7 linked regions of the Homo sapiens genome follow. The protein of the gene in region 2 interacts with the protein of the main gene of each other region in a pairwise test. Each region holds a gene or a part of one and is shown on either strand. Other genes may lie near its edges.

Evidence for each region.
Region 1: the proteins of DNAJB6 (region 2) and FAM117B interact in binary tests that used the Homo sapiens proteins (3 or more experiments, as listed by UniProt).
Region 3: the proteins of DNAJB6 (region 2) and LOXL4 interact in binary tests that used the Homo sapiens proteins (3 or more experiments, as listed by UniProt).
Region 4: the proteins of DNAJB6 (region 2) and CNST interact in binary tests that used the Homo sapiens proteins (3 or more experiments, as listed by UniProt).
Region 5: the proteins of DNAJB6 (region 2) and RAB3IP interact in binary tests that used the Homo sapiens proteins (3 or more experiments, as listed by UniProt).
Region 6: the proteins of DNAJB6 (region 2) and CFAP100 interact in binary tests that used the Homo sapiens proteins (3 or more experiments, as listed by UniProt).
Region 7: the proteins of DNAJB6 (region 2) and MAGEC3 interact in binary tests that used the Homo sapiens proteins (3 or more experiments, as listed by UniProt).

Annotation. Positions count from the first base shown.
Region 1 is NC_000002.12:202,725,287-202,729,643, reverse strand, and holds part of FAM117B (protein FAM117B), read right to left. Parts: intron 3,395-4,357; coding exon 3,281-3,394; intron 1-3,280.
Region 2 is NC_000007.14:157,343,125-157,347,481, forward strand, and holds part of DNAJB6 (dnaJ homolog subfamily B member 6), read left to right. Parts: intron 1-4,357. UniProt on the Homo sapiens protein: Has a stimulatory effect on the ATPase activity of HSP70 in a dose-dependent and time-dependent manner and hence acts as a co-chaperone of HSP70. Plays an indispensable role in the organization of KRT8/KRT18 filaments.
Region 3 is NC_000010.11:98,250,973-98,255,329, forward strand, and holds part of LOXL4 (lysyl oxidase homolog 4 precursor), read right to left. Parts: intron 2,825-4,357; coding exon 2,581-2,824; intron 1,497-2,580; coding exon 1,381-1,496; intron 731-1,380; coding exon 594-730; intron 205-593; coding exon 93-204; intron 1-92. UniProt on the Homo sapiens protein: Catalyzes the oxidative deamination of lysine and hydroxylysine residues in collagen and elastin, resulting in the formation of covalent cross-linkages, and the stabilization of collagen and elastin fibers.
Region 4 is NC_000001.11:246,572,471-246,576,827, reverse strand, and holds part of CNST (consortin), read right to left. Parts: intron 1-4,357. UniProt on the Homo sapiens protein: Required for targeting of connexins to the plasma membrane.
Region 5 is NC_000012.12:69,818,575-69,821,851, reverse strand, and holds part of RAB3IP (rab-3A-interacting protein isoform alpha 1), read right to left. Parts: 3' UTR 1-3,277. UniProt on the Homo sapiens protein: Guanine nucleotide exchange factor (GEF) which may activate RAB8A and RAB8B. Promotes the exchange of GDP to GTP, converting inactive GDP-bound Rab proteins into their active GTP-bound form.
Region 6 is NC_000003.12:126,422,135-126,426,491, reverse strand, and holds part of CFAP100 (cilia- and flagella-associated protein 100), read right to left. Parts: exon of another isoform or gene 3,642-4,357; intron 3,168-3,641; coding exon 3,116-3,167; coding exon of another isoform or gene 3,000-3,115; coding exon 2,848-2,999; intron 1-2,847. UniProt on the Homo sapiens protein: May play a role in ciliary/flagellar motility by regulating the assembly and the activity of axonemal inner dynein arm.
Region 7 is NC_000023.11:141,893,332-141,897,688, reverse strand, and holds part of MAGEC3 (melanoma-associated antigen C3), read right to left. Parts: intron 3,024-4,357; exon of another isoform or gene 2,875-3,023; intron 2,421-2,874; coding exon 2,282-2,420; intron 2,205-2,281; coding exon 2,130-2,204; intron 1,507-2,129; exon of another isoform or gene 1,413-1,506; intron 1,259-1,412; exon of another isoform or gene 1,182-1,258; intron 1,105-1,181; exon of another isoform or gene 1,037-1,104; coding exon of another isoform or gene 808-1,036; coding exon 203-807; coding exon of another isoform or gene 61-202; coding exon 1-60.

The sequences.
Region 1 (4,357 bases), on a different chromosome or scaffold from region 2:
ATTCTGAATTCTCCCTATCAACACATTCATTATACAGTGTTATAATTAACTGTTTACTCATATCTCTTTAATATGAGAACTGGTAAGGACAGACAATATTTCTTTTATCACCACATCCCCTAATGAGTACTACGGTCACAGGCCAAAATGATTAATAAATATTGTATGGGCTGATGAATGGCCTCAGAAGTACACATGTATCGTGTGGCACTTTTCTCCACTAGATAGAGAACCCACCAAAACAATAACTTAATAGAAATTATTTTCATGTTTACAGCCTAAGAGTTTCTTTTTAAATTTTTTTTTTTTTGAGATGGAGTCTCACTCTGTCACCCAGGCTGGAGTGCAGTGGCACGATCTCTGCTCACTGCAACCTCCGCCTCCTGGGCTCAAGCCATTCTCCTGCCTCAGCCTCTCAAGTAGCTGGGGTTACAGGCACCCGCCAGCCTCGCTAATTTTTGTATTTTTAGTAGAGATGTGGTTTCGCCATGTTGGCCAGGCTAGTCTCGAACTCCTGACCTCAGGTGATCCACCCACCTTAGCCTTCCAAAATGCTGGGATTACAGGCGTGAGCCACCGTGCCCGGCCAGCGTGAGTTTCAATTAAACATGAGTACTACTGTCATTACTATCATGATGCACATGTGCCTGACTTGCGGTTGGCTGATAACACTAAATAAAATGGGAGAAACAGTTAAGACGCTTGATGTGTCAAGTGTACAAAACTCAAACTAGATGAACTATTTTTCAAGTTTCTCTATTTTCTTGTCCTTACCCTCTCTGCAAGGAAATGTTTTTAAATTAAATATAAATTTCAAGTAAATTCCAATAATCTTTATTAAGTAAATTCAACTTGCAAGAAGAAAAAAATGAAAATTTGAATAACCACTTTAAAATTGTTGGTTTTAACACAAGTTTAAAAAATAATCACTTCAGAAACTTCTGAAGTCCTAAAACTAGCCACTTAATTCAATAAAATTCCATCCTAATCCCTATTCTACTTGGAGTAAAAATATGGACTGGGAGTAAAAAGTGGCCTTATTTTTTAGAAACACATACCATTTATTTATGAATGAATGAGAGGAAGGGGAAGGTTGGCAAATTCATCTGTAAAATCATCTGGGTCTTCAGCCTCTTGAGAGTGAGACTGGGTTTTTAATTAACATTCCAAATTCAAAAGTTATTAGTCTTTACAAATTTTTCATTTCTTATTTTGTCAATTTAAAATTTCTATTTCTCCAGAAATAAATCTAGTTTGTACAGAATATACACGAATACTAATGTATAACCATGTTTTTAATTAAAATATCAAATATAGAAAAAAGTTACTGGAAATTATAATCGAACTATAAATTTGGCTGGACATAGTGGCTCATGCCTGTAATTCCAACACTTTGAGAGGCTAAGGTGGGAGAATCACTCAAAGCCAGGAGTTAGTGACCAGCTTGGGCAACACAGACCCCATCTCTACAAAAATAAAAATAAAAAATAAAAAATATTAGCCAGGCATGGTGGTGCACATATGTAGTCTCATCTACTCAGCAGGCTGAGGTGGGAGGATCACATAAACCCAGGAAGTCGAGGCTATAGTGAATCTGTGATCACCCTGCTGCACTCCAGCCTGGGTGACAGAGCAAGACCCTGTCTCAAAACAAACAAAAAACAATCTCTATAAACCTGTGAAATCAAATCTGACCCGAGTATTAATATTTTGGGGCAAAATCAGTTTGAAAAAGTCTATACCTTTACCCATACTTTCCATTGCAAACAATCTATACATTTAACAAACATCAGACACTACCAAACTATAAAAGGGGTTGGCCTGCCTTATCTGTAAAGGGCCAAACAGTAAGTATTTTAGGCTTCGTGAACCAGACAGTCTCTGTTTCAACTACTCAATTTCAGAAGACTGGTTCCAGGACAGGACCCCCCTCCAAATACCAAAATCCACAGATACTCAAGTCCCTTATATAAAATGGCATGGTAAGTGCATTATGATTTAGGAACATCCTCCTGTATATTTTAAATAATCTCCAGATTACTTATAATACCTAATACAATGTAAATACTATGTAAATAGTTGTCATACTGTATTTTTATTTGTACTTTTAATTATATTTTAAAATATATTTATATTTATACATATTCTATTCTATTTTTCCAAAAATATGTTTGATCCATGGTTGGTTGAATCCATAAATGCAAAACCTGAAGATATAGAGAGTCAAATGTATATTTTTGTGGCACAAAAAGGAGCAATAGACAATACATAAAAAATGAGAGTGACTGTTTTCTAATAAAACCTTATTTACAGAAACACATGGTGGGACATTCTTGGCTCCCGGGCCACAGTTTGCCAACTCCAGTATTATAAAACAACCTGAGAGTCACAGAACTAAGTCTTCTAGTTTCCCTCTACCTTCCAGGCCCTGCTGCCTTACTGTTAACATGGAAAATTCAATCCAGCCTTCCTCATTCCCAAAGCTTCAATTCTGGAACTTGAAAGATCCTGAAAAGACCTGAAATGAACTTGCTTTCTCCTTGCCAAGAGATCTCATCCAATTTCAATTCAGTAAAAAAAAGTGTTCTTTGGATGGATGAGCCATCAAGAGCAGTTCATGGGTTCTACTAAAAAATCAAAGCAGATAAAGGTTTGTCTCTATCAAAAGACTTCTATGAGACAGCTATTTTTTTTTTTACATTTTTTTAAATTATACTTTAAATTCTAGGGTACATGTGCACAACATGCAGGTTTGTTACATACATACCCATGTGCCGTTTTGGTTTGCTGTACCCATTAACTCATCATTTACATTAGGTATTTCTTCTAATGCTATCCCTCTCCCATCGCCCCAGCCCACAACAGGCCCTGGTGTGTGATGTTCCCCGCCCGAGACAGGTATTATTATTCCCATCTTCACATGAGGAAACTGAGACTTAGAAAAGATAAGTTATTCAGCCAGGGCCTGTTCCATACCCAATGCTTAATTCTCTGTGTCATTCTGCCTCCAAAATATTGAACTGATAAAGCCAAAAATATGGTAAACCAAAATAGATAAGTAGCTATGTCTCCTAGAAGTCGTATCTTAGGTCACTAAAGGAAAATATCATTTTGTCAACTTAATATTCTGTTTTCTTATAAAGACTGTGATTCAGTATTTAAATCACTGTTTCAAATATGTTTTTGAGCATTTTTGTCCTAAACAATTACCAATGAAATAACAAATCACCAGAAAAACAACAAATTCCTTTTCTGGATTTTGTGGTATTGGTACTCTTACCTGACACTGGTTAATAGCTGCATGGTTGCCATGAAATGGAGACTGTCTTTCTTTATCTCGATGATGCCGACTGCTGTGTTTACTTCTCTGCAACTGCTGGCGTAATTTTGCAATCTGAGAAAGCAAAAATAGCAAGTACACCAGAGTGTTTTCTACATGAAACAAAAACACATCCTTGCTTAATAAGAACCAGTAAAACTTACCCTTAATAAGTCCTTTGAATTTTTGAACCATATCACAAAGTCTCATTTTTTGTTCATAATTTTATACACATCTACACATGCATGTATGTGTATATGTTCCAACATTGTTCTCAGCCTTCGAGCTTCCCAAGTACTACACAAATAGTTTTCAGCACTTAGAATAAATTACATTACAGTTTTCACGAAGAATTAAAAAAATAACAATCATTCTCATTGCCTTTACCATAAGTTAATTTTTATTTCAATTTAGATTTATTGAACACCTAGCTTTCAACAGTTCCAAAAATTACACAGTATTTAAAAATCAACTCAAGTCATGAAATATATTCACAGATATCATCTTTAAATAACGAATGCAATTCCAATGAATATCTTATTTATTCTTTGACCGAGTTTTTGCATTTCTACATTATGTGTGAAATGAAAATGTCACTAATTAGCAGCACAGAAAATGGTAATCATAGCATGGAGCCATAACCATCATGGTTATAGTGAGTACTGCATTTCAGAAACACCACCATATATAGAAAAATAATAAATGTGGCCAGGTGCGGTGGCTCATGCCTGTAATCCCAGCACTTTGGGAGGCCAAGGCAGGCAGACTGCTTGAGGTCAGGAGTTAGAGACCAGCCTGGACAACATGATGAAACCCCATCTCTACTGAAAATACAAAAATTAGCTGGCCATGATGGCATACACCTGCAGTCCCAGGTACTTGGGAGGCTGAGGCACGAGAATTGCTTGAGCCTGGGAGGCAGAGCCTGCAGTGAGCCAAGATCGCACCACTGCACTCCAGCCTGGGCAACAGAGCGAGACTCCGTCTCACACACACACATGCACACCCCAAAAAAAAAAAAAAAAGAATAAATGTGAA
Region 2 (4,357 bases):
AGCTGGGATTACAGATGTGCACCACCACACCCAGGTAATTTTTTTTTTTTTTTTAAGACAGAGTCTTGCTCTGTTGCTCAGGCAGGAGTGCAGTGGCACTATCTTGGCTCACTGCGCCTGCACCTCCCAGGTTCAAGCAATTCTCCTGCCTCAGGCTGCCGAGTAGCTGGGACTACAGGCGCTCACCACCATGCCTGGCTAATTTTTGTATTTTTAGTAGAGAAAGGGGTTTGCCATGTTGGCCGGGCTGGTCTTGAACACCTCAGGTGATCTGCGTGCCTCGGCCCTCCAAAGTGCTGGGATTACAGGCGTGAGCCACCTCACCTGGCCTCAGATGAATTTAGAAACCACTATTTTTTTTTGAGATGGAGTCTTGCTCTGTTGCCCCGGCTGGAGTGCTGTGGTGTGATCTCAGCTCACTGCAAACTCTCCCGGGTTCAAGCAGTTCTCCTGCCTCACCTGGAACTACAGGCGCCACCACGTCTGACTGGGTTTTGTATTTTTAGTAGAGACGGGGTTTCACCACGTTGGCCATGCTGTTCTCAAACTCCTGACCCCAGGTGATCCACCTGCCATGGCCTCCCAAAGTGCTGGGATTATACGCATGAGCTACCCACGCCTAATCTTTATGTGACGTGTTTTTTTAAAAGTCCTAAACTTAGAGGTCATTGAATTTATTGGAGAAGGTTATTTTTGATTAATGGCGATTAGGCTAATTTTTTTCATGGTTTTAATAGAGATTTTTCGTTTTTTTAAACTTGATTTAGATGTATTGCTTTTGGAAATTGCAGAAATTAACAAACCGAGTTTTCCTAAGAAATATTTTTTCTTAATTTCTTAATTGAAAAGTTTTCTATGGCTTCCTTAATAGACAGTAGGACCTAGTTAATAGTTTAAAGAAGTTTCATAATTGTTATTAGAAATGTTAATTATGGGCCGGGTGTGGTGGCTCACACCTGTAATCCCAGTACTTTGGGAGGCCAAGGTGGTCAGATCACAAGGTCAGGAGTTTGAGACCATCCTGGCTAGCATGGTGAAACCCCATCTCTACTAAAACAATACAAAAATCAGCTGGGCGTGGTGACAGGTGCCTGTAGTCTCAGCTACTTAGCAGGCTGAGGCAGGAGAATGGCGTGAACGCGGGAGGCGGAGCTTGCAGTGAGCCGAGATCCCTCTACTGCACTCTACTGCACTCTGCCTGGGTGACAGAGTGAGACTCCGTCTCAAAAAAAAAAAAAAATAGCCAGGCATTGTGGGACACACCTGTAGTCCCAGGTACTCGGGAGGCTGATGCAGGAGAATCGCTGGAACCAGGGAGGTGGAGGTTGCAGTGAGCTGAGATTGTGCTGCTGCACTCCAGCCTGGGCAACAGAGTGAGACTCAAACTCAAAAAAAAAAAAAAGTTAATTTTGTAGTTAGAGAATATCTTCCTGCTCTACGCAAATTCCCTTCCAGCCTGAAATTATTTGTTTTTTTATTTTTTATTTAAAAAAAAATTTATTATTTTTGTGACAGGGTCTTGCTCCGTTACGTAGGCTGGAGGGCATTGGTGCGTTCACGTCTCACTAGCATCGACTGCCTGGGCTCAAGTGATTTTCCTGCCTCAGCCACTTCCAGTAGCTGGGACTACAGGTGCACACTGCCACACCCTACTGAGTTTTTATATTTCGTAGAGACAAGATTTTGCTGTGTTACTCAGCGTGGTCTTGAACTCCTGAGCTGAAGTGATCCCCCTGCCTCAGCCTGCCAAAGTGTTAGGATTACAGGCATGAGCTACTGTACCCAGCTGTGATTTCTTTTAAAGTGCTACTTTACAGCACTGTCACTTTTATTTTATCATTTTTAACTTTAAAGTTTTTTGTTTATTTTTATTTATTTTATTTTTTGAGATGAAGTTTCGCCCTTGTTGCCCAGGCTAGAGTGCAATGGAGTGGTCTCGGCTCACTGCAACCTCTGCCTTCCAGGTTCAAGTGATTCTCCTGCCTCAGCCTCCCAAGTAACTGGGATTACAGGCGCCCGCCACCACACCTGGCTAGTTTTTGTATTTTTTGTAGAGACAGGATTTCACCATGTTGTCCAGACTGGTCTTGAATTCCTGACCTCAGGTGATCCACCCGCCTCAGCCTCCCAAAGTGCTGGGATTACAGGCGTGAGCCACTGCGCCTGGCTTAAAATTTTTATTTTTTATATATTTTGTTTTTTTCTGAGACAGGGCCTTGCCCTGTCTCTTGTCCAAGTTGGAGTGCAGTGACATGACATGGCTCACAGCATCCTTGATCTCTTGCGCTCAAGTGATCCTGCCATTTCAGCCTCCTGCATAGCTGGGAGTACAGGCATGTGCCACCCCACTCAGCTAATTTTTTTTATCTTTTTGTAGAGATGGTGTCTTACTGTGTTGCCCAGGCTGGTCTCAAGCTCTTGGGCTCAAGTGATCCTTCTGCACATTTCCAAGGTTGTTTCACTCCTGTGTCTTTGCTGTCTAGAAGCTTTTCAGTGTGATGTAATCCCACTTGTCTGTTTCGGCTTTTGTTCCTTGTGCTTTTGGGGGTCATATCCAAACAAAGATTGCTGAGGGGCCAAATTTTAAATTGTGTATAATTTTAATGACTTCAGATTTAAATAGCTGCATTTGGCTTATGGAGTCTTTTGAGCAGCATGGTTTTAAAAAGGTTTTTGCCAAGTGGGGTTCTAATGGACACCTATGCTTGTAGAGCTCTGATGTGAGTGATCTGCTGTAGAAATTACTTCTTTTGATTTAGTATATTATTTTAAAATGCAGGTGATGCACTGGTTTCTTGGTGAGGGAAGCTGGTTTTTCCTGGCTGAGCTTCTGTAGGGTGGAGGGCTGGAGTCCAGGCTCTCGCTGGGCAGGGAAGGCAGCTTGAGTGTGCCTTCCAGTCCTCCTGAGGGCCCACATTTTTCTGGGATCACCTGTTTTCTGTAATGTGCATTGAACACACGGGCCAGGAGAAGAGGGAAGTAGAGGAGCTTTGTCCTCTGTGCTCATCCTCACAGTGCTGGGCGGGCCAGAAGGATTCAGGGCCAACCTTAGGGAGATGAAGGCCAGTTAAAATGTTTTATTGCCACAAATGGTGTCTTTTAAGAAATGAATCCATGTATTTTACACTTAAATGATATTAGGCTACTCCGGGCACACTGCCTATGGGGTAGCCCTGCTCTGCAAGGAGTAGTAAAAAAAAAAAAAAAAAAAAAGTTAAAGATACAACTTAGTTTCTCTGTGACTAGGGAAATCGTCCAAGTATGTATCAAATAATGCTAATTGGTACCTAGTTTTATATCTTGATTAGGCAACTTTTTGCTTAAAATTGTTTTGGAATGCATTAGTATTTCTACAGCTTCAGGCTGCTTTATCATCTAATACACAGTTGGATATTTAATATATAGTTTTATCAGTTTTTTTTAAACACTGTTTTTGAGAGGTCTGAGGAAAAAAAAGATAGTGTTACCAAAAATACTTCTATAGGGAAATACTGATAGAAATGTATAGGTAGCCTTGAAATTCTGAGGTTAATAAAAAAATTTGAATGCAGGTAACCTTTCATGGAGTTTGTCAAATTTTAAATTGTGTCTTACATCAGTGATGACTGAAGCAGTAAGGAGTGAGCTTGCAGCAAACAGTGGGGATTGTTGCAGCATCAGCACTTCAGCCAGCTCTGCAGGTTTCCTTGGAGACACGTGGATTTCTCTTTCTAGACCTTCAGCTATTTTCTTTTTTTTCTTGTTTTCTTGAGATGGAGTCTTGCTCTGTCGCCCAGGCTGCAGTGCAGTGGTGCGATCTCGGCGCACTGCAAGCTCCACCTCTCGGGTTCACACCGTTCTCCTGCCTCAGCCTGCCAAGTAGCTGAGACTACAGGCGCCCGCCACCACGCCCGGCTAATTTTTTCTATTTTTAGTAGAGACGGGGTTTCACCGTGTTAGCTAGGATGGTCTTGATCTCCTGACCTCGTGATTCGCCTGCCTCGGCCTCCCAAAGTGCTGGGATTACAGGCATGAGCCACCGCGCCCGGCCAGCTATTTTCATTTTGTTGTTTCTGTAATGCGTATTTGTATTTAATTTATATTCTAAATTTGTTAGTCTTACTGGCATTTGATGAAAACTAAAAAGGTAATTTTGAGATTTCAAGTACTGGTGAGAGAATGTCCCATAGCCTTGAGGGTTGGAATTGTGTACATTGACAGCATAGTGCCACGATACAGGCTAGCATGAGTTCTGGAGGCAAACTTGGATTCTTACTATTTTTAAAGATGCAGTGTCTTTGGTATGTTGCCCAGGTTGAACTCAGACTCCTGGGCTGAAGCCATCCTCCTGCCTCAGCCTTCTGAGTCACTGGGACTT
Region 3 (4,357 bases), on a different chromosome or scaffold from region 2:
CACACGCTGGAGTGTGGGAGCAGAGGGTACATTTACAGTGTTCCAGCTCCCTGAGCCTATAGATGGCTGATTCCACAGTGGCTCGGAGTTACCTGTGTGGCAGTTGTGCAGCCAGACCCGGTGCCCATCATACTTGCAGCGGCACTGCAGCATATTGTTGGAGAAATCTGACTCTGCCACTTCATAGTGGGGGTTCACAATCACCTAGAGTGAAAGAGGGGACAACTGAAAATGGGTGATTTGGTTTCTGAATGAGTTGACTGTGGCTGTGATAATCCTTACATGTGTTTCTATTTGCTTCATTAATTCTTAACAATTACCCAGGAGGTAGGTACTGATGTTCCCATTTTACAGATAGGGACTGAGAAGTCCCAACTGAGAAACTGATTTATCCAGTGTTCACTGAATCAATACTCAAACACAGGTTCATTGGACCCAGCTTGACTGTTACTTCCCTAACAGGACAGCTCCTTTAAGTGACAGGCCTGTCGGAAACCCTGTATGGGAAATTCTTCCCTTCATTTGCCCTCAGGGAAAGTTGTGGAACATCTGGAGGAAATCAGGCTCTGTGGGGAATCCCCCAGCCGCCTTACCTGGAAGATATAATTCCCGGGGCCCACATCTGTGATATCCACCCACTGGCAATCAATGTCATGCCGGTAGGTGTCCCAGCAGCCTACAGTCACTCCCTGTTCTCCAAAGTTGGCACATGCGTAGCGCCGCTGCAGTCCTGTAAGGAAGGGGACAGACAGGTTTTGAGGCAGGACGAAGCACTCTGCTAGGTCTTTTATTTCCTTTACCAGTTCAGTGTCATCATGCCCAGTTCACAGATTAAGGACCGTCAGAGCTAGAATCCTGCTGTGAATCCAGCACCATAGCAAACCACATTGTGACAAAGATAGGATTTGTTTGACTGCTCCAGTGCAAATCCCTGTTGAACTAGGAACTGTGGTTGGGAGATTCCAACGCTCCCGTGCTAATTTACTTGTGCATCCGCCTATCCATCCTTCCAAACCTCTAAAGATTCAGTGTTTACCATGCAGTTCCTAAGGGTTAGGGACTGTGGGTGTGCAGACAGGAAGCAGGCAATGCTTGCCCTCGGAGAGCTCAGCAGAGATAGGACAGGTCTGCAACTCTTCTCCAAGATGGAAAGTGCTGAGTGTTTTAAAAGAAGAACAATGCGTGGGGAATTCAGAGGAAGTAAAAACCTCCTGCGTAAGATTTCAGAAGGTAAGAAATTGCCTTGAATGCTAACTTTTCAAGCCAGGGTCTCCAGGTGCCCTGGGCTGCTGAACAGGGCAGAGAGAAAGCCTGATCCCAAAGGGGCTGAAGAACATAACAAAAGGAGATGCTGATAGGTGCTGACAGGAAACCACATACCTGTGGGGCAGTTTGTGTCCTCCAGACAGAAGCTGGCCTTGTGCCCCTCAGCCACCTTGGAGCCATTGAGAGTGAGGAGGTCGTAGTGGGTGAAGACCTCAATGCTGTGGTAATGCCTGCAGAAGGGGTAGAGCTGTCAGTGCGGCAGCAACAGGAGAGGGTCCTCTCTGGAGGGGCTGGTAGGGAAGACAGGCCCCAGGCCCCATCATGACCCGAGAGGAAAGTTATAGTAGGCAGTGCCCTTCTCCCTCCCAAACCCGAGATTAGTGTGACGCACAGCCTCCTTTGCTGGCACCCCTGCCAGGCAGCAAGTACAGCTGCCCCCACCACCTAGGGTCTCAACCCAGGCAAGAGGTAGAAGCCCTGCTCTGGTCGCCTCCAGGAGGCTGGTGCCTGACAGCAAGGCCTGAACTGGGGGGAGAGGCGGGGCACCGGGTCTGTGAGCAGCCTAGGAGCTGACCTGCTGGGAAGAGGGTCCCTGTAAGCCTGGGACCAAATTGCTACCATTGTTTCCAATCCAGTTATAATGACAGCTCTGTTCATGCTACAGGGAAAGGTGCTTATTATCTCAGGCGAGACCAAGTCCCAAAGTCATTGCCCATTCCTTTCCACTTTCTCCACCCGTGGCTATGTTCTGAAGAAGAAAAAACAATTCTGCCTTTGTCACAGGCATTGTCTCTCCCTCTCTCTGGTCTGGAAGCTCCTGATAGGAAAGAATGTTCATTGTCACTTTTTTAGTGGCAGTCTGTTCATGCTGTTCTTTGAGGGCCTTGCCTTACTACTGAAGGAATCAGCGAGCTTTTCCTGCAGAGCCAGCACCCTGGATGGGATGTCTATTTTGGGCCCCCAGGTTCCTGGGAGTCCCCACTTTACCTGGCTTCTGAAGACAAGGCCTATGATCCAACATAGGAAAAGTGTCAAATACCATTCTAACAGAACAACTCTGCTGGCGGTGACGCCTCTATGGGATGTTGCTGTGGGAAACAGACCCCACGGGCACCATTGACATAGTGAAGGCGAGAGCGATGGAGGGGCAGGTGGATGCCGCTGTCCTCACTGCCTCCTGCAGGCAAGGCCAGCAAGGAGAGCGCACACCCCTCCCAGGAAAACTTGCCTGTGGCCAGGGAAGGGCCAAACTGCTCCCTGGACCCTGCTTTTTGTTCCTAACCCTCTAGTGCCAATGCATGGGCAGGCTCTAACCTGTGGCACTGGTGCCAAACCCAGCTATCGCGTCCAGTCTTTGGACGAAAGTCAGTCCGGCCCAGATTGTAGATCTGTGTGGAGAAGCGCAATAGGCGGCGGTATCCGTAGGGCCAGTCCATGTGATCCGCAGACTTGGAGAGGCAGTTCTCCTCGTGGGCACAATACAGCTGGCTGAGCGGGCGGTCCTCCAAGTAGGCCGTCTCCTGCACTAGCTGGGCGTTCATCACCAGGTCTGGTGCACCTGGGGCGGCGGAGGGCATGGCAGTGACTCAAAGGGTGGAAAGGCAGCCAGTCTTAGTCTCCAGCACAGAGGGCAAGCTTGCCCCCAGATTAAACCCTCCGAGAGGACCCCACAAAAGAAGGGCAGTTTTAAGAGTCAGGAGATGGTGAGTTCTAATAACATTTAAAGGAAGTCTATCACCTTAACCTGGGAGGCAGCTACAGTGTCATGGTTAGGCTTGCTGGTTTTGGAGCCAGGCCACCTGGGTTCATTCTTGGCTTACTTTCTGACTGTATAATTCACTAGCTCTATAACTGCTTAACCATTTTGTCTCTCATTTTCATCATCTGTAAGATGAAGATAATGGTGATATTAATCTGATGACACCTGTAACATGTCTGGCCTAAGTAAACATGCAGTTGAAGCTAGTATTTATTTTGTAAAATGCTTTTAAGCCTGTAAAGTGCCTTTATGTAGCTTAGTTCATATAATCCTCTCAAAAAGCTCTGCTGATACCTAACCTGGATACTTTGCCTGTACTGTCACTAAAAATCACTATCACTAAAGTAGTCCTGGGCGGAAGTGAGGCCCTGCCACACCACTGACCACAGCATGCATGCCACCTGGGCAGGCCGGCCGCAGCTTGCCCCAGGCTGGAGCCATCTGCATCTGGCAGTTGGCCATGTAGGGTCCTGTGGTATATATTGGAGAGAGCCAGGAAGTGCCCACTGACAAACCTAGAGTTTCTTGGTGAAAGAAGGCGAGCTTTCAGAGAGAATGAGAAGAGAGAGTAAAGGAAAGAAAGCAATGTGAAAAGCCAGGGAGGAAAAACAGGTGGTTACAGAGACTGCAGATTGGCTGACTGTGCCAAGTTGTCGTGAAGGATCAAATGTGTTCAAGAAGAGCGCTCCCACTGTAGGCAGTGGAGCAGGGAGGGGTTCGAGGTTCCCAGGAAGGGGAGTCAAGTGAGGAGCAGGCTCCCCACGTGCTGGGAGGCCTTGGTGATGGGGAGGTCCACTCTCATGCCCCATCCCTGCAGGGGAGGGTCTGATGGATGGGCCCAGTGTTCTCCCCAGGGTGCCCTGGACAGAGAGGAAGCCAGGAGCTCACTGACAAAGATGAAGGATATCTTGGTGTCGAAATTTGGCCACGAACAAGGTCAAGTGGCCACTTGGGTTGATGCTATCTGTAACCTTTGGGCTGGATATAGTCCATCTTGGCACTGACCTGGCTGGGAGATGTCAGAGATGCTGCTGCCCTAAGAATCTGGGTTTGTGGGGCAGAGCAATGCCACAGATGGCCTTGTCCCAAAGTCTTTTTGGGTAAATCCCACAGCTCAGGAAGAGAACACACAGCTGGGCCTTGGCCCCGGGTGTGCTCATATTTGTATGTCCTCTACGACAGCTTTCAAACTGCTTTTCTGACTACAAACCACAGTAAGAAATACATTTTATGCTGTAACCCAGTATACACATAGTTCCAAGGAAAAACTGCCCTTGCTGTTTTCTGTCCTGTTTCATTGTTTGTAACTGTTGGTCATAACCCAAAGTTGAA
Region 4 (4,357 bases), on a different chromosome or scaffold from region 2:
AATAGGATAAAAAGAATTAAGAAATATAATTTGTGGCTGGGTGCGGTGGCTCACGCCTGTAACCCCAGCACTTTGGAAGGCTGAGGGGGGTGGATCACCTGAGGTCAGGAGTTAGAGACCAACCTGGCCAATATGGAAAAATCCCGTCTCTATTAAAAATACAAAAATGTGCCGCGCGTGGTAACATGCCTGCGGTCCCAGCTACTAAAGAGGCTGAGGCAGGAGAGTCACTTGAACCTGGGAGGCAGAGGTTCCAGTGAGTGGAGATCATACCACTGCACTCCAGCCTGGGTGACAGAGTGAGACTCCATCTCAGAAAAAAAAAAAAGGATGTAAAAACATAATTTTTATGTGCTTCTAACTCTAACACAATTAAACCAAAACAAATTTACGAATTATGACATGCAAAAAAAATCAATAAAGTTAAAATAATAGTCACTGAACACGATGCTGCTCTGTAAAAATTAAAGTTTTGTTCACTAGTGGAATACGGTATACACTGTGACTGCACGGTTATCATAGGCACGTGAGGATCCAACTCTCCCACCACCAATTACTGAGAAATCTTTGTTTCTTTTTTTTTTTTTTTTTTTGAGACGGAGTCTGGCTCTGTCGCCCAGGCTGGAGTGCAATGGCGCCATTTCGGCTCACTGCAAGCTCCACCTCCCGGGTTCAACCAATTCTCCTGCCTCAGCCTCCAGAGTATCTGGGATTACAGGCGCCCGCCACCATGCCTGGCTAATTTTTGCATTTTTAGTAGGGACACGGTTTCACCATGTTGGCCAGGCTGGTCTTGAATTCCTGACCTCAAGTGATCTGCTCGCCTCGGCCTCCCAAAGTGCTGGGATTACAGGCGTTACAGGCGCGAGCCACCGCGCCCAGAGAGCACTGAAATCTTATATGAGAATGTTGTTTTAAAGTGTCAGTATTGTTCTTGAATAAGCTTATATTATTTTTTATCATTGAAATAAAAATAGGGAATTTTTAAAAATGCTAATTACTTTTTTCCTCTTCCACTTCTCTGTATTTTACATATTTTCTATGATAAACTTGTATTTTTTCTAGTTGAGTTTCATGACACCTTTATCGACATATAATTCATATACCATACAATTCACCCACTTAAAATGCACAATTCAATAGCTTTTAGTATTCACAAATTGTACACAATCAATTCTAGAACATCTTATCACCCCGAAAAGATCCCCCCTGCCCTACATACCCACTAGCAGTGATTTCCCATTCTCCTGCACCCCCACCACAGCCCCAGGCAATCACTCAAACCACTCATGTACTTTCTGTCTCTATAGATTTACATATTCTGGACATTTCACGTAAATGGAATTATACAATATGCGGTCTATTGCAATTAGCTTCTTTCACTCAGCATGTTTTCAAGGGGTATCCATGTTGTACTATATACTGATACTTCATTTCTTTTTATTGCCAAAGAATCTTCCACTGTACAGATATACCACCTTTTATTTATCTATTCATCAGTTGATGGACATTTGGGCTGTTTCTACTTTTTGACTCCTGTGAATAATGCTGTTATAAACATTTGTGCACGTTTTTGTCTGAACACTTGACAAAAGGTCAGGAGGTCAGGAGTTCAAGACCAGCCTGGCCAACATGATGAAACCCCGTCTCTACTGAAAATACAAAAATTAGCCAGGCTTGGCGGCGGGTGCCTGTAATCCCAGCTACTCGGGAGGCTGAGGCGAGAATCACTTGAACCCGGGAGGTGGAGGCTGCAGTGAGCCAAGATCGTGCCACTGCACTCCAGCCTGGGCAACAGAGTGAGACTCTGTCTCAAAAATAAATAAATAAATAAATAAATAAATAAATAAATAAAATACTTGAGGAAGATTTGTTCAGATTTGTTCTTTGACTCACTATGACTTTCCTTCATAATCTATTAAATTATTTTTGTTTTAAATAAAATACTACTAAAAATGATGCTTTTACATAGGAATCCTTATAAAGCCATAGCTGCTTATAAGAGAGATTTAGGAAGGACATGCAATAACCAACCAAGTCAAACTGATGCTGTGGTTGTTGTCCTTTTTTGAGTAACATATTCCTTGAAAAATCTGATGAAAGTTGAGAATTCCCTCTGAAAAATACACGTATTGTGCTTTGGGAGGCCAAGGCTGGAGGATCGCTCCTGGAGGAGGCCAGGAGTTCTAGACCAGCTGGGGCAACACAGGGAGGCCCTATCTCTGCAAAAAGTTAAAAAAAAAAAATTAGACTGCATACCTGCAGTCCCAGCTACTAGGGAGGCTGAAGTGGGAGGATTGCTTGAGTCCAGGAGTTTGAGGCTGCACGGAGCTATAATCTTGCCACTGCATGGCAACCTGGGTGATAGTGCGACAAGCTGTCTCTAAAAAAAATTTTTTTTAAAGAAAAAGAAAAAACACGAATTTTTGAATAACCATGTTTTCCTCAAGTTAAAATTTATTTATCTTTTTAAAAAATCTTTGGAGCGGCTGGGAGCGGTGGCTCACGCCTGTAATCCCAACACTTTGGGAGGCCGAGGCGGGCGGATCACAAGGTAAGGAGATCGAGACCATCCTGGCTAACACGGTGAAATCCCGTCTCTAATAAAAATACAAAAAATTAGCCGGGCGCGGTGGCGGGTGCCTGTAGTCCCAGCCACTCCGGAGGCTGAGGCGGGAGAATGGCGTGAACCCAGGAGTAGTGGAGCTTGCAGTGAGCTGAGATCACGCCACTGCACTCCAGCCTGGGCAACAGAGCGAGACTCAGTTTTATTAAAAAACATCTTTGGAGCATTATTACTTCTGTAATCAAGAAGGAAAAAAGAGGCAAAGATGTGTACTTCTACCCCCCACCACTTCGAGTTTCTAATAAAATATGCCTATTCTGACCTGTCAGCTTTCCATGGAAAAAACTAAAAGGTGAGGGAAGGCAGAATAATCTATAGAGACATTCTGGGCACATTTTTTCACTTACACTGAAGAGCTGGAGGAAAATGGAAACTCTCCAGCAAAGGCTATACAAAGTACGTGGTTTTACACAAAGCGTTACACAAGTACATGGAAGCTTTAGTTACAAAACAGATATTCTTAGAATATGTTTCCTCAGCCCAGATAAGTGTTCCTGGAGCAGAAATTTTGCTCATAAGGTTTTTGCACTCGCAGCTGTTCTCTTTGAGGCTTCAGGGAAGGCAAGCCATGGACACACAGGTTAAAGCTCTGTTGGCATTCACCGGGCAATCCCTAGGTTTTCCCCAGCTATGCAGTGGAGACAGGAAGGATAAAAAGCCCGCAGGCATCAGAATGCACGAAACTATAACCAACCAAGAGGCCACCTGATATAATAAAAACTAACTTCTTGAATTAAATACTATTTTACTTTAGGTTATTTTGAAATACAGCTTTCTCTGGCTAGTGAAAAGATGAGCTTTGGTGAATATATGATCTAACAGATTAATTTTAAAACAAAAGTTCAAATGTAATGGTAATAAGACAATCTTCTTCCAAGTCACAAGACCTATATTACATGATTAAAGTAGGGAAGAGCAAGGGTATTACCTCTAATTTTGGCTCTTTACAGTGCTTATCCAATGCTACAGGTATAACTCTAACTGGCATGCCGAAGAACTCCACAACAAAATTTTTAAAATACTTGTAGCAAGAAGAATCTAGAGATTGCTGTGTAAATCATTTAAAATAAAGCCTGATGGCTGAATTTGAATTAAGATGCCAAAAATGGGTATCAATAATGACTTTTCCAGGAAACTACATTTCACAATATCATAACCAGTATAATTTGCACAAACGTCCACCCCTCTTTTCATGTGAGTTGACGCTGAGGGAGGAAATCCTGTTGGTTACATGAATCCTTGTAAGATCCAATTTAAGTAAACTTTTTCATGCTTCACAAGTGGAAAAAAAAATCTAAAATGTTAGTTGTTGTTTCATGAGGTAAAAACAAATAACTCAGGCCTGGTGCAGTGACTCACACCTGTAATCCCAGCACTTTGAGAGGCTGAAGTAGGCACTCTGCTCGAGCTCAGGAGTTCAAGACCACCCTAGGCAACATGGCGAAACCCTGCTTCTATTTTTCTAAAAAATTAATAATTAAAAAAACCACATATCACACACATAAATAAATAACTCCACTATTTATTATTCAATAAATAAAACATACATTTGGCTGGGAGTGGTGGCTCACGTCTATAATCCCAGTATTTTGGGAAGTCAAGGCAGGAGGATCACTTGAGCCCAGGAGTTCAGGACTAGCCTGGGCAAAACAGTGAGATCTCATCTCTAAATAACAAACCACACACATTTTCACAAAAATCCTTATTGAAAAATCTTAGGCAATGTTTTTC
Region 5 (3,277 bases), on a different chromosome or scaffold from region 2:
GAGACAATCCAGGATGGTGGGCCATAGAGCAAACCATGGAGTGCATACCCTGAGCAAGGGTGTAGCCACCCGACAGGTGGAGTCACTCAGCTCCACCCAAGTGTTGTCATTCAAGACTGTGGGCTCAGTGTTGTCGAAACGGCACATTTTAAAAAAGAGCAGCTTGAAATGCAGATTTTAGATTTCCTCATTTTTAAATGCTGGCAATTGTTCAAAAACAAGATGGACAAACAGAAAAATAAACCAAAACACTGTGAAGGACAAATAGCACATTGTGTGAAAACACAATGGAGCCCACAAGATGCAACCCTGGTGCCGAGATCTGCGGAAAGTGAAGAGAATTGAGAAGGAAGTTGCTGGGAGGACTAGAAAATCTCTATTAATCAGAATCCAGAGCACTCCACTGAGAGCACAATCCAGCTGCTGGAAATAGGATTTAAGTGGAAATTCCTCCCTCTCAGTGAATAACAAATATGATGCGTATTTTCCTGATTATGGTCTTTACGTCTTACATTTTCCAACTCTCTTGATATCCCCATTTTGCAGAGTTTCGGTAGAGAATCATTCTCTTGAATAGTAATCTAATCTAGTTGTGATTTGGGTTTGCTTTGGTATTGACATTTCCTAGAGAGCTCCAACAGATACAGATAAAAGCTGAGCTGCTGCGGTTAAATCTGGGGATGTGGTGATGGGGGCCCTGTATCCCTCGAGACTGTCCCTGAGACCTGTAGCTCTAGAATCTAGTCCTCATGACCTCAGACGTTCCTCCAAAAGTAAACTGTGTGTGAACTTGTGCTCCCTTGAGAAGCTGCCTTTAGGAAGGGTTTCAATTCTTTTAATATTTTATCAAGTTTAGTCCTCTTCTACATTTTTTTTTTAAGTTTTGCAAATTTTCATGGAGTTTTTTAAAGCTTTCATTGTTATTTCTCTGTTAACAACTACCACTATGAAAACTTGATTTTCTATTGAGTTTGGGTTTTTTTTTTTTTTTTTCAGACGGAGTTTCACTCTTGTTGCCCAGGCTGGAGTGCAATGGCGTGATGTCAACTCACCACAACCTCTGCCTCCTGGGTTCGAGCGTTTCTCCTGACTCAGCCTCCCAAGTAGCTGGGATTACAGGCATGCGCCATCACACCTGACTAATTTTGTGTTTTTAGTAGAGACAGGGTTTCTCCATGTTGGCCAAGCAGGTCTCGAACTACCAACCTCAGGGGATCCGCCCGCCTCGGCCTCCCAAAGTGCTGGGATTACAGGCATGAGCCATCGCACCTGGCCAGTTTTTTTTTTTTTTTTTTTTTCTAAGTGCAATGGGAAGCCACTCAAAGGGCTTTAAGCAGGGAAGTGACATTATCTGATTTTCGTTTTATAAAGATCCCTGCGGCTGCCGTCAGTGATTGTAGGAGGGCAGGAGTGGATGCAAGGACAGCAGACATTAGTGCAGGAGTTCAGGTGAAAGATGATAATAGCTTGGGCAGAGTGGTAGCAGTGGACATGGAGGGAGGTAGACAGATTTAAGATGTCTCGGAGACAGCTGATGGAATTTGCTGATAACTGGAATGGGAGTGACAATGACAAATAAAGGAACCTAGAATAAGCCCCAGAATTTTGCTTAAGCAACTGAGAGTTCAGCCATGGCAGATCTGTTAAGCACAAAAGTTAAACACAAATACAAATTCATACTGCATTGGACTCTTTTAAGCAGTGTCTTATAGAAAAAACATTTTATCTAGGGAAAAATGCAACAACAAAAACCACTGAAAACAAAAGCCTATGAATAAAAGCAGACCCGTTTTAGACTGGATGCACAAAACAAAAACACACAGGATTCTTGTGGTGGCGATGGGAGTAAGTGAAGACGTAACAGGTTGCAAGTTATTTTAAGGACTAAGACCCAATGTTCAGAAACCAAATCTTGTTCTTCCAGTGTGGATGCTTAGTCAAAGACTGTAAATTGTCTTCAAGCTGAGAGAGACCATGAAGAGAGAGGAGTGGCCACCTAACTAACCTTCCCAGTTTTTGGGAGCCAAACCTAGACCAGAATGTAGGTCTAAGTGACTCCCAATCCAGAGCTGTCTCCATTAGGCCAGGCTCTCACCCCAGCTCCAAACCAACTTCTAAAAACTTGTCCAAGAGTCCTCCTCTTCTTTAGAATTGGTAATCTTGGCAATTAAATTCAGCGTAGAAACACTCTCCTGAACATAATCAGCATGCTGGTTCTTCCTTTTCTGTTGCCTTGCTCTTCCTAACAGCTCCTCCTTTCGTCTTTGCAGGCTGCTTCTCTGTCACAGGAACTCAGGGCTCAGTGCTGTACTTCATCTCCAAAGTGTCCCTAAAGCGCCCATCTGATCCCATGGCTAACTACTCCCCAAATTTTCTCCTGGACTGACCTTACTGAATTTAGATTTGTACATCCAATACCTGCTTAACATATCCACTTTGATGCTCAGTGGGCACCTCACACTTGATCTGTCAAACACTGAATTTCTGTCTCTGTTATGCACATACCCAAACTTTCCCCACCATGTATTTCCCCATCTCAATAAACTGCAATAGCTCAAGCCAAAAGCCTAAGATTCAGACCTGAATTCTTTCCTTTCCTCTCTCTCAAATGCAATTCAACAATTTTCTTACCTTTTATTTTTTGTTTTGGAATGAAGGCACATATAACTGAGCTAGTAATAATGCTTGATTCATAATACACCACCGATGTTCCATGCATAACTCTCTTATTCATTTGTCCATGCATTTATTTTGTTTTTGAATTTTTTTAAAGGGGGGCAAGGTCTACGTTGCCCAGGTTGGAATATAGTAGCTATTCACAGGTGAAATCATAGCACACTATAGCCTTGAACTGGCCTCAAGGATCTTCCTATCTCAGACTCCCAAGTAGCTGGGACTATAAGCACGCACCACTACACCCAGCTCATGTACTTACTTTTAATGACAAATGAACCACCCCAAAACCCACCACCTAACCCAGGGACTAAAACATTACCAGTGACTTACTCATAGATTTGCTCCTCCTCTACCTCTCCAGAGGTAACCACTATCTTGAACTTTATTACTTTTTAAAAGTTTTGTCACATATGTCAATGCCTAAACAGCTGTTCAGTTTTAGTTGTTCTTGACTTTTATAAGAAAAGTATCATGTCACATATAGTTTTCTCAGAATTGCTTTTTCATTCTGAGTTATTGTGCTGCAAGTAGCTGGTATTCATTCATTTTGCTGCCATGTAATAATCACCCATTCTGTGAACACATTACACCTTCCTAAAAA
Region 6 (4,357 bases), on a different chromosome or scaffold from region 2:
GCATGAGCCATTGCACCCAGCCTTTTTTTTTTTTTTTAAGACAGGGTCTCACTGTGTCACCCAGGGTGGAGTATAGTGGCATGATCATGGCTCACTGCACTCCTGGGCTCAAGTGATCCTTGCACCTCAGCCTGCCAAGTAGCTAGGACTTCAGATGTGTGCCACCATGCCTAGCTAAGTTTTTTATTTTTTCTAGCAATATGGTCTCACTATGTTGCCCAGGCTGGTCTCGATCTCTTGGCCTCAAGTGATCTTCCTGCCTTGGCCTGCCAAAGTGCTGAAATTACAGGCATGAGCCACTGCACTTGGCCATCAGGAGCTTTTTGTTGATTGTTTTGAATTTTCTACATAGACATTCATGTCATCTGTGAACAAGGACAGTTTTATTTCTTCCAATCTATATACATTTTATTTTTCTTGTCTTATTACATTAGCTAAGACTTCCAATACAATATTGAAAAGTAGTAGTGAGAGAAGACCTCTTTGCCTTATTTCTGATCTCATGAGAAAGCTTCTAGTTGTTGTTTTTTTTGTTTCATTAGGTAAGATGTTAGCTGTAGGATTTTTGTGTTCTTTATCAAAATTGAGGAAATTCCCTTCTATTCCACATTTTCTGAAAGCTTTTATTATGAGTGGATGTTGGATTGTGTTCAGTGCTATTTCTTATGATCATATCATGTGACTTTTCTTATTTAACATGTGGATATGACAGATTATGTTAAGTTTTGAATGTTGAACCAGCCCTGCATACCTAGGATAAATCCCATTTGGTTGTGGTATATACTTCTTTTCCTATACTGTTGGATTCAATTTGCTAATATTTTGTTGAGGATTTTTGCATCTATGTTGAGGATATTGGTGTCTACTTTTCCTTTCTTGTAATGCCTTTGTCTAGTTTTGGTATTAGGGTCATACTGGCTTCATAGAATGGGTTAGGAAGTACTCCCTCTGCTCCTATCTTCTGAAAAGTGATTGTAGAGAATTGGTATAATTTCTTCCTTAGATGAAATTCTTCCTTTGTAGAATTCACCAGCAAACCCATCTGAGCCTGGGGCTTTCCCTTTTGGAAGGCTATTATTTATTTAATTTGTTTAATGGAATAGGCCTATTATGATTGTCTATTTGTTTTATATATTTTTAAGACTATATTTTGATTTTTTTTCTGAGAAAAGATGGCTGAGTTCATGGAAGTTAAATACACATGGGCTGTGACTCCCCTGGAAACAAAGTATGGGTGCTCTCAGGGATGGCTTGGCTGGCTGAAGACCAGCTTTGGGATGTCACATCCAGCATTCTGCTATGAGGTTTACGTTTGCATGCATGTGTTGGAGGAGGAACCTGTCTTCTTGCCCAATTATCTGGAAAGCTGGAGCCTGTCCACCTCTCCCCAGCTCATCTTCCTCTGTGTCTGTCACCTCCCAGCTTTCCAGGGCACATAGTCTTGCCTGAGGCTGGGGATTTCAGGTCATTATGGGGACTCTTTGCCATACTGCACCAACGGGACATGGGTGCTCAGGAGCATGGTTCCCCCATGGGACACTTAAGCCTCAGTGGGCTCCCACCTCAGTGCCTTTGCACCTGCTGTTCCCGCTGCCTGGGACCCTCTTCGCCCAGCCTGTGTGGATGGCTTTCCTCCCACTCCTCAGGAAGTTTCCTGACACCTCCTGGAAGCCTTCTCTACCCCTCCCATCTGCTGTCACCCTCCATTTTAGCCCTCTTTCTCAAATTGCTTTATTTTCCTCCTAGAACACATCAGTATGCACAAGTCACATCTGTGGATCTGTTTGTTGTATCTGCTGCCATTAAGGTCAGCTGCATGAGGGCAGGGCCTTGCTTTATCCTTGCAGAGCTTAGACCCAGGCCTGACCCAGAACGGATGCACAGGCAGTGTGTGGGGAGTGAGCAGAGGATTCCCTGCTCTGGACATGCCTCACCAGTGCCTCAGGCTGACCCTGCCCTGCCCAGTTCTCCTGGAGGCAGGTACCCTGCAGGGGACTGAGTGGCCACACCCAGCAGGAGGGACCATAATAGCCTCAATTGGGCTCCAGGTGAGAGCTGGGCAGCCACCTGACTTCTCCTGCTGCCTCTCTGGCTGGAACTGGGAGGGCAGGATTTTCCCAAGGCCCTAGCCACTTTGCCATGCTGGACAAGCTGTGTTTTAGGCCTGTCCCCAGAGGCCCCAGTCCTGGGTGGCCAGATGGCCCTCACCCATCCCTGCCCGTCTCAGCCCCACCTAGCCCCAGCCTGCAGGATGGCACAACTCGCCATGCCCATGTCCTCGTGCTCAGGGCTGCACCCACTCCCGTCCCCGTTATGCTGCTGAACAACAGCAGGGGACACACTTCACAGCAGCCCACAGGTGGCTTGGCCTTCCCCAGTTCTGTGCCGCGAACACCCGCTCAGTGGTCTACGAAATATGAAGCAGCAGCAGCTTCCAGGCCCTTCTGAGCAAATGACTGCTTTCGGTGCCTGTGTGAAGCATGTTAGTGCTGCTATGAACTGGGGGGTCAGGGTCGCTGTGGACCTCCAGCCACTCCAAGGGCCTCCCAGGAGCTTGGCAGCAGCAGAAGGCGCCTAGGGCAGAAGGTCCTTGGAGAGGCCTGGCTCTAGCCATGGGCTGCTTCAGGGTGGGCACGGGTGCCTGGGCCCTGCCCACCCCCAGCTCCACCACCCTCTCTCCAGGATCCGGCCCACAAACGGAGCTTCGCTCGGAGCTTTTCAGACAACCTGGACCAGGCCAGGGCCACGGACGGGTGTGGGCTGTTTCCCCAACTTGGCTCCCAGTGCTAGGGGGATCCCAGGATGAGAGCGGCAGGGAGCCCCCACTGGCCACCGCATAGCACCTACATGCGGATCTGGGTGTGTTTCAGGGTGTGGCTCAGCTCCTCCAGGGTCTTCTCCGTCTCCTGGCTGTTCTGGATCAGCGACAGGTTCTGCTCCTCCAGCTCTCGGAAGACATCCAGGAGCTGCTGGGGCTCCGTGAAGTACAGCTGTGGTTCCTGCAACCCACAGGTTTTGGCAGGGACTGGACAGGGACAGAGCCAGAGGGGCAGGGGTGGGGGCAGGGAAAGAGAGGGGCGACTTCCGAATTCCAGCCCAGCACTGGGCCATTCACCTCCCCATCGCTGTCGGTGTCCTCCTGCGTGGGGGGGATGGGAGAGTTCGACCTGCGAAGAGATGGCAGGGTCGGGACTCTGGGACCAGCCTGAGCAGACAGGAGCCAGGGGAGGGGGCACAGAGGTCTTGAAGGCGTTGGCAGCATCCCCATCCCTCCTCTCCCAGCTGCCCACAAGTTACCCAGAGGGCAGCACCAGCTTCCTCACAGTCCCCAGCTGCCACACTGCAGCCAGGGGATAGTTTCAATCCACTCATTTTCCCAAGGCCGTAGCCACTTTGACATGCTGGACAAACCATGTTCCAGACCTGTCGCCAGAGGCCCCAGTCCTGGGTGGCCAGATGGCCCTCACCCATCCCAGCTCCACTGCACTTAGAATAAAACCTGCTCTCCTCTTGGGTCATGCCAGGCAGCCCTCCCAGCACTCACCTTGCCTCCCCTTCCCCAGCCCCTCTGCCCTGCCTGGCCAGGTCCCATCTCTCTAGGTGCTGCCCTACCCCAGGCCTCTGCACCTGCGGCTCCGCTGCTGGGGCTGCCCCTCCTCCCTCACCCTTGTTTACTGAGTGCCACCTTTGAGGCCTTTCCTGCCCTGCCTCCCCCATCTAGGGTCAGTCTTGGCCCCTGTCCTGGGGGTCCCACTCACAGCAATAGAGGGACTCTCAGGGCTGCCTCCAGGTGATCCTGAGTGCCCAGGGGCAAGGTCTGTCCTGGACCAGTGGAGAGGGGCTGGGAACAAGCTGTGTGAGCTTTAAGCACTCAGTGTGGGCCCCAGAAGGCCCCACTCGATGGGGACCTCACCTGCACTGACTTCCAAACCTGCCCTCCCAGCCTGCTCCACCCTGGGCCTCACCTAGGATCTGCAGGTCCTGCTGACTGAGGTGGGGGGGGCTGCGCTGGCTTGCCCCAGGCACCTCAGGGACCTAAGCTTGGGCTTGGAGATGCCAGCCCCTGATCCCCAGAAGCAGAGAGGCATCAGGGCAAGGTCCTGTGGGACTCTGACAGCAGATCCAGGAGGGCTTCCCAGGAGAGGCTGTGATAACAACTACAGCACTCGCCAGACCCACGCCTCACACTGCACACCGATGCCCATTTTACAGATGAGAGAGCCGGCTGCCTGCAGGGCGCTGCTGGCCCATACGATGCCTTTCTGATAATCCACCCTCCAGATGGATGTAGCCTGGGTCAGGGAGCCTGACCTGGCGGTTGGTGGGCATGGGCTGGACTTCAGCCCCCATGTTCCCT
Region 7 (4,357 bases), on a different chromosome or scaffold from region 2:
GATGATACTGGATAGCTTGGATAAAAACTCTAAGACTTCTCTTGCTGGCCTCTGAATGGGCTCTTGGACCCCACAAAAATTCATAACGTGGAGGAGCACTGTTGGGCACCTCCCGGTACTCCAGGTACTTTCTCTGCACCCAATGTATAGTGAGCAGCTTTCTGGGATCCCCATATATAAAGTGCTCCCTCCCAGCACACACCCCTATTGCACTCAACACTTCCCAGATGACCTCCTCGGGGACACAGCTGCCCTTTATGAAGATCATACTGAGAATAAGAATCAGGAGACAGTTCTTGGGCATGCCCTGGTCATCAATCAGGCTTCCCTCATAGGTGAGGTCTAATGTGTCTTCAAAGAAATAGGAGTGGTTGTCGGGGTCCATATCAGTCAGGGCAATGCCAAAAATTAGCTCTATGAACTCATGGGCTTTCCCGAAGATCATGGGAAAATAGTCCTTATACTTCTTGATGACAGTCGTCAGCATCTCTGCCTTTGTGACAGGCTCTTTTGTTTGATATTTGAGGAGAAGAAACTGCACCAACTCAGCCACCTTTTCATCCAGGGCATACCTGGGCAAGGATTCACTTTCTGGCAAGGCATGCCAAGTAGCTGTATCCTCCTCTTCACTGCTGGACTCCTCATCCAATCGGGTCCACAAAAGAGGGGATGAGCAGGAGTCTAGAGGACTCTGGGGAGGACTCTGCGGAGGACCCTGGGGAGAGATCTTGGGAGGACCCTGGGGAGGAATCTCAGGAGGACTCTGGGGAAGAGGTGGCATCCCAGCAGCAGGCATATCCTCATCTTCTGGAACACCCAGAATGAGAGTAGAGGGTAAGGGTGAGGACAAGGGTGAGGATGAGGACAAGGAAGAGGAGGAGGGGAATAAAAAGTGGAAAGAGGAAGAGGAAGTGGAGGAGGCATCCTCCTCCTCCTCATCTATGGAATCCTGTGCATCTACCAAGTCCTCTGTCACACTCGGGTTCTGGAAGTCTTCCTCAAAGCTGAGGCGTGGAAGGTTTGGAAAGAGAGGCATGAGGCCTGTTGTTCAGGAGCAGCAGGTAAACGTGTGAGCAGGGATGGGGATGATGGGATCCCACAGGCCTGAGGAAGACAGTGACAGTGTGAGTAGCTTCAGCTGAGAAACTCACCTATGATGGTTCTGACAAAGGCTGGCTTACAGCTCTTCTTCTCTTAAGGTGGTGCTCTAGGGCCTCACAGGTCGCCTGTCTTCCTAAGAGGTTTGCTCCCTCAGAACCTGTAGGAGGATGTGAGAAAGCACCTCGGGGCACAGCTGGCAGGCAGAGCCTGAGGCACCAGGAATGGCAGTAGGTGGCTATGGCCAGGTGCTGCCAGGTCTGCTCTGTTTGTGGGGGTAGGGCCCTTGGTACACAGTCAGGGCGTGCACTCACCTTGACTCCTGATATTGCCTGGGCCTCCTCTGCTGTGCTGACTTTAGGAAGTGTGCCTCAGACCCAGGTCTTCAACTCCTGGTTCCTGGAGCACCTGCAAGAGGAAGTGAGGGAGCCCCTCAGGCTAAAGACTGCAAGCAGAGTCTTGGGCCTCCCAAGGCTGACAGCTGGGGCTGACCAGACTCCCAGAGCCCCACAGTTCTGGACTGCATGGTCCCATCAGAATTTAATTAGCATCCTCACCTTTTCTCAGACAGGGCCATGTCCCTACCACTCTTCTGGCCAAAACTCAGGGCAAACTCCACATCCCTGAGAGCAGCGGGAGGTAGCGAGGTGGCAGCCACCTCCCAGCACTCTACCACGGGGGCAGTCGGGGTGGCCTCACGTCTGTTCTGATGCACGTGGGACCTCTCCGTCCTCACTCTTATCACCAGCAGGGCCTGGGAATCTTCCCTCTGCCAACTGGAGGCAACTCTCCCTGCTGACTTGTCATGGAACCCCCCAGACCAAGGCCTCCCCTTCCCCTCCACCCCTCCCCCTCCCCTCCACCCCTCCCCCAGCAATGAGAGGACTGCCGCTCAGCCTGAGCTGACTGAGGAGCTCTACGAGGGCTGATATGAGGAGCAGGGTGGGAATCTCTGGGAAGCTGTCCTCTGAGGTGGGGGTTCCCCCAGTCCTCCTCAATGTCTTCCTATTTATTCCCTAGAGGGCTGGCACCTCCTCCCTTCTTCTGTTGTGGGGACGCCTCGGTCAGCCCTCGGCGGCCATCTTCCTGTCTGTGGCCTGCAAGTCCTATGGCAGCGCAGGGCAGACCGGGGCTTCTTCTGTCCTTGGTGCGAAGTCCCTCAGTTCTCCCTTAGGGCCCTTACCTTGAGGATTGGCCAGGTCTAAGACGCTTCCCTCTGCTGACCTGAGTCCAGACTCCTCGCAAAATGCTTCAGGTCCTTCAGACTCCCACAGTGCAAGTCGGGAAAGCACATCCGCGAACCCTGCCAAGGCTGACCAGGGCTGACAGCAGAGGCAGCGTGGGGTGGGGCCTCCTCTCCATGGAAAAACCACCCCCCACCTCTCCGCCTCCTTCCACCTTTTCCTGACCACTTCCCCGCACTCCACTTCTTCCTGCCCTCCTCAGCGCCCCCCGACCCCTTTGTGCCCACCTCCCTACCCCCTCCCACCCTCCTCCCTGACCCCTTCCTCTCCTTAATGCCCACCTCCCCGCCCCTTCCCACCCTTTCCTGTTCACCTACTGCCCCCTTTCACCTTTTATTGCCCATATTCCCACCACTCCCACTCCTTCCTGCCCACTTTCCCACTCCCTCCCACCTTTTCCTACCCACCTCCCAACTTCCTCCCACCCCTTCGGGCCTACCAACCTGCCCCCTCCCACCCCTTCTTGCCTACCTCCCCACTCCCACCTGTTCCTGTCCACTTCCCTGCCCTTCGCCCACCTCTCCCTGCCCACCTCTCCGTTTTCACCTCTCCATCTGTTTTGTCCAGGGGTGACAGCAAGGAGTGGCTGGGCGACGCCTGGGCCTTCCCTCCGTGTTGGGAGATAGCTATCCTTCCACAGAGTTCCCTTCTTGCTTGTTGGCCAGCCCCGGGGCTCCTTTCTCTGCTTAACTGAAGCTGCCCCGTGTCTGAAATGAGGTGGGAAGGCCCCTCAGTCTTCCTCAAGGTTTTACTCCTTCCAGGGCCGGCACTCCCCCCTTCTCCTGTCCCGACAGCAACAGTTGTTCTGTCATCCTCTAAAATCCATTCCAAAACCTTCTACTTTAAGTACTACCGTGTGTGAAGTTAATAGAATCTCTCTCCTGACCTATGTCAAAGGCTCCCTTAGTTTTCTTCTTTCCCTATCCTTGTCCCAGAAAAATCCATTGTCTTTTCAGCAGCCTGTGCGTGATCTTTTAAAAAAATTATTTTTAACATTTTATTAATTTAATGTCATTAATTTTTATTATAATTTTTATTAATTTTTAAAATACACTCATCAGATTTAACTATTATGTGAAATTATATGTATTTTAGCAAATGCGTGGAGTTCCATATCTACGAACCAAGTGTCACACTGACCAGTTCCATCACCCGAAAAGTCCCCTGTGCATCTCTTTTGAGGTCAGTCAAGGCACTTCTCCAAAGACTCTAGCAACTATGCTCTGTTTGCAGTTCATATAGTTTTAACTTTCACAATTTGTCATATGAGTAGGTCCACAAAACATGGATTTAAAAGTCTGGCTGCATCATTTTTCATCTCAACTAGCAAGGAATGAGAATTCCTCTTGTTGCATATCCCCTCTTCCATTTAGTATTTTAGATTTTCAGATTTCAGCCATTCTAATAAGCCTGTATTTGAATCTCCTTTGTTTTTTGTTTGCATCTTCCTAATGACAAATGACGTTGGTCATCTTTTTATATGCCTTTTCCTGATTGGTATATTCTCTTCAAATCATTTGTGTCTTTTTAAAAACTAATAGACATCATTTTTAGAGCATTGCTAATCCAAAAATACAGAGAGAAAACTTCATCAAAGTTACAGAGTTCTCACATATCTACGCCCCCCCCCCCAATTCCTGCCCTCCTGCCCTGCCCTATGCACGCACACAGACACACACACACACACACACACACACACACACAGTGTCTCCTATTATTTATATTTTGTATTATTATGGCATGTTTGCAACAACTGATGGACCTGTATTGATACCTCATTATTAGGTCAAGTCCACAGTTTACATCAGGAATCACTCAACGTTGGGGATGCTGTAGGTTTTGATAAGTGTGTAATGGTGAGTATTCATCATTACAGTATCACACAGACTTGTTACACCATTTTAAATCTCTTGTGTGCTCCACCTATCAATCCCCCTTGCCCCAACCCTAACTCCTCAGCCTCCGGAAACCACTGATATTTTTAGTGTATTCATAATGAACTGTTTCTAAATATT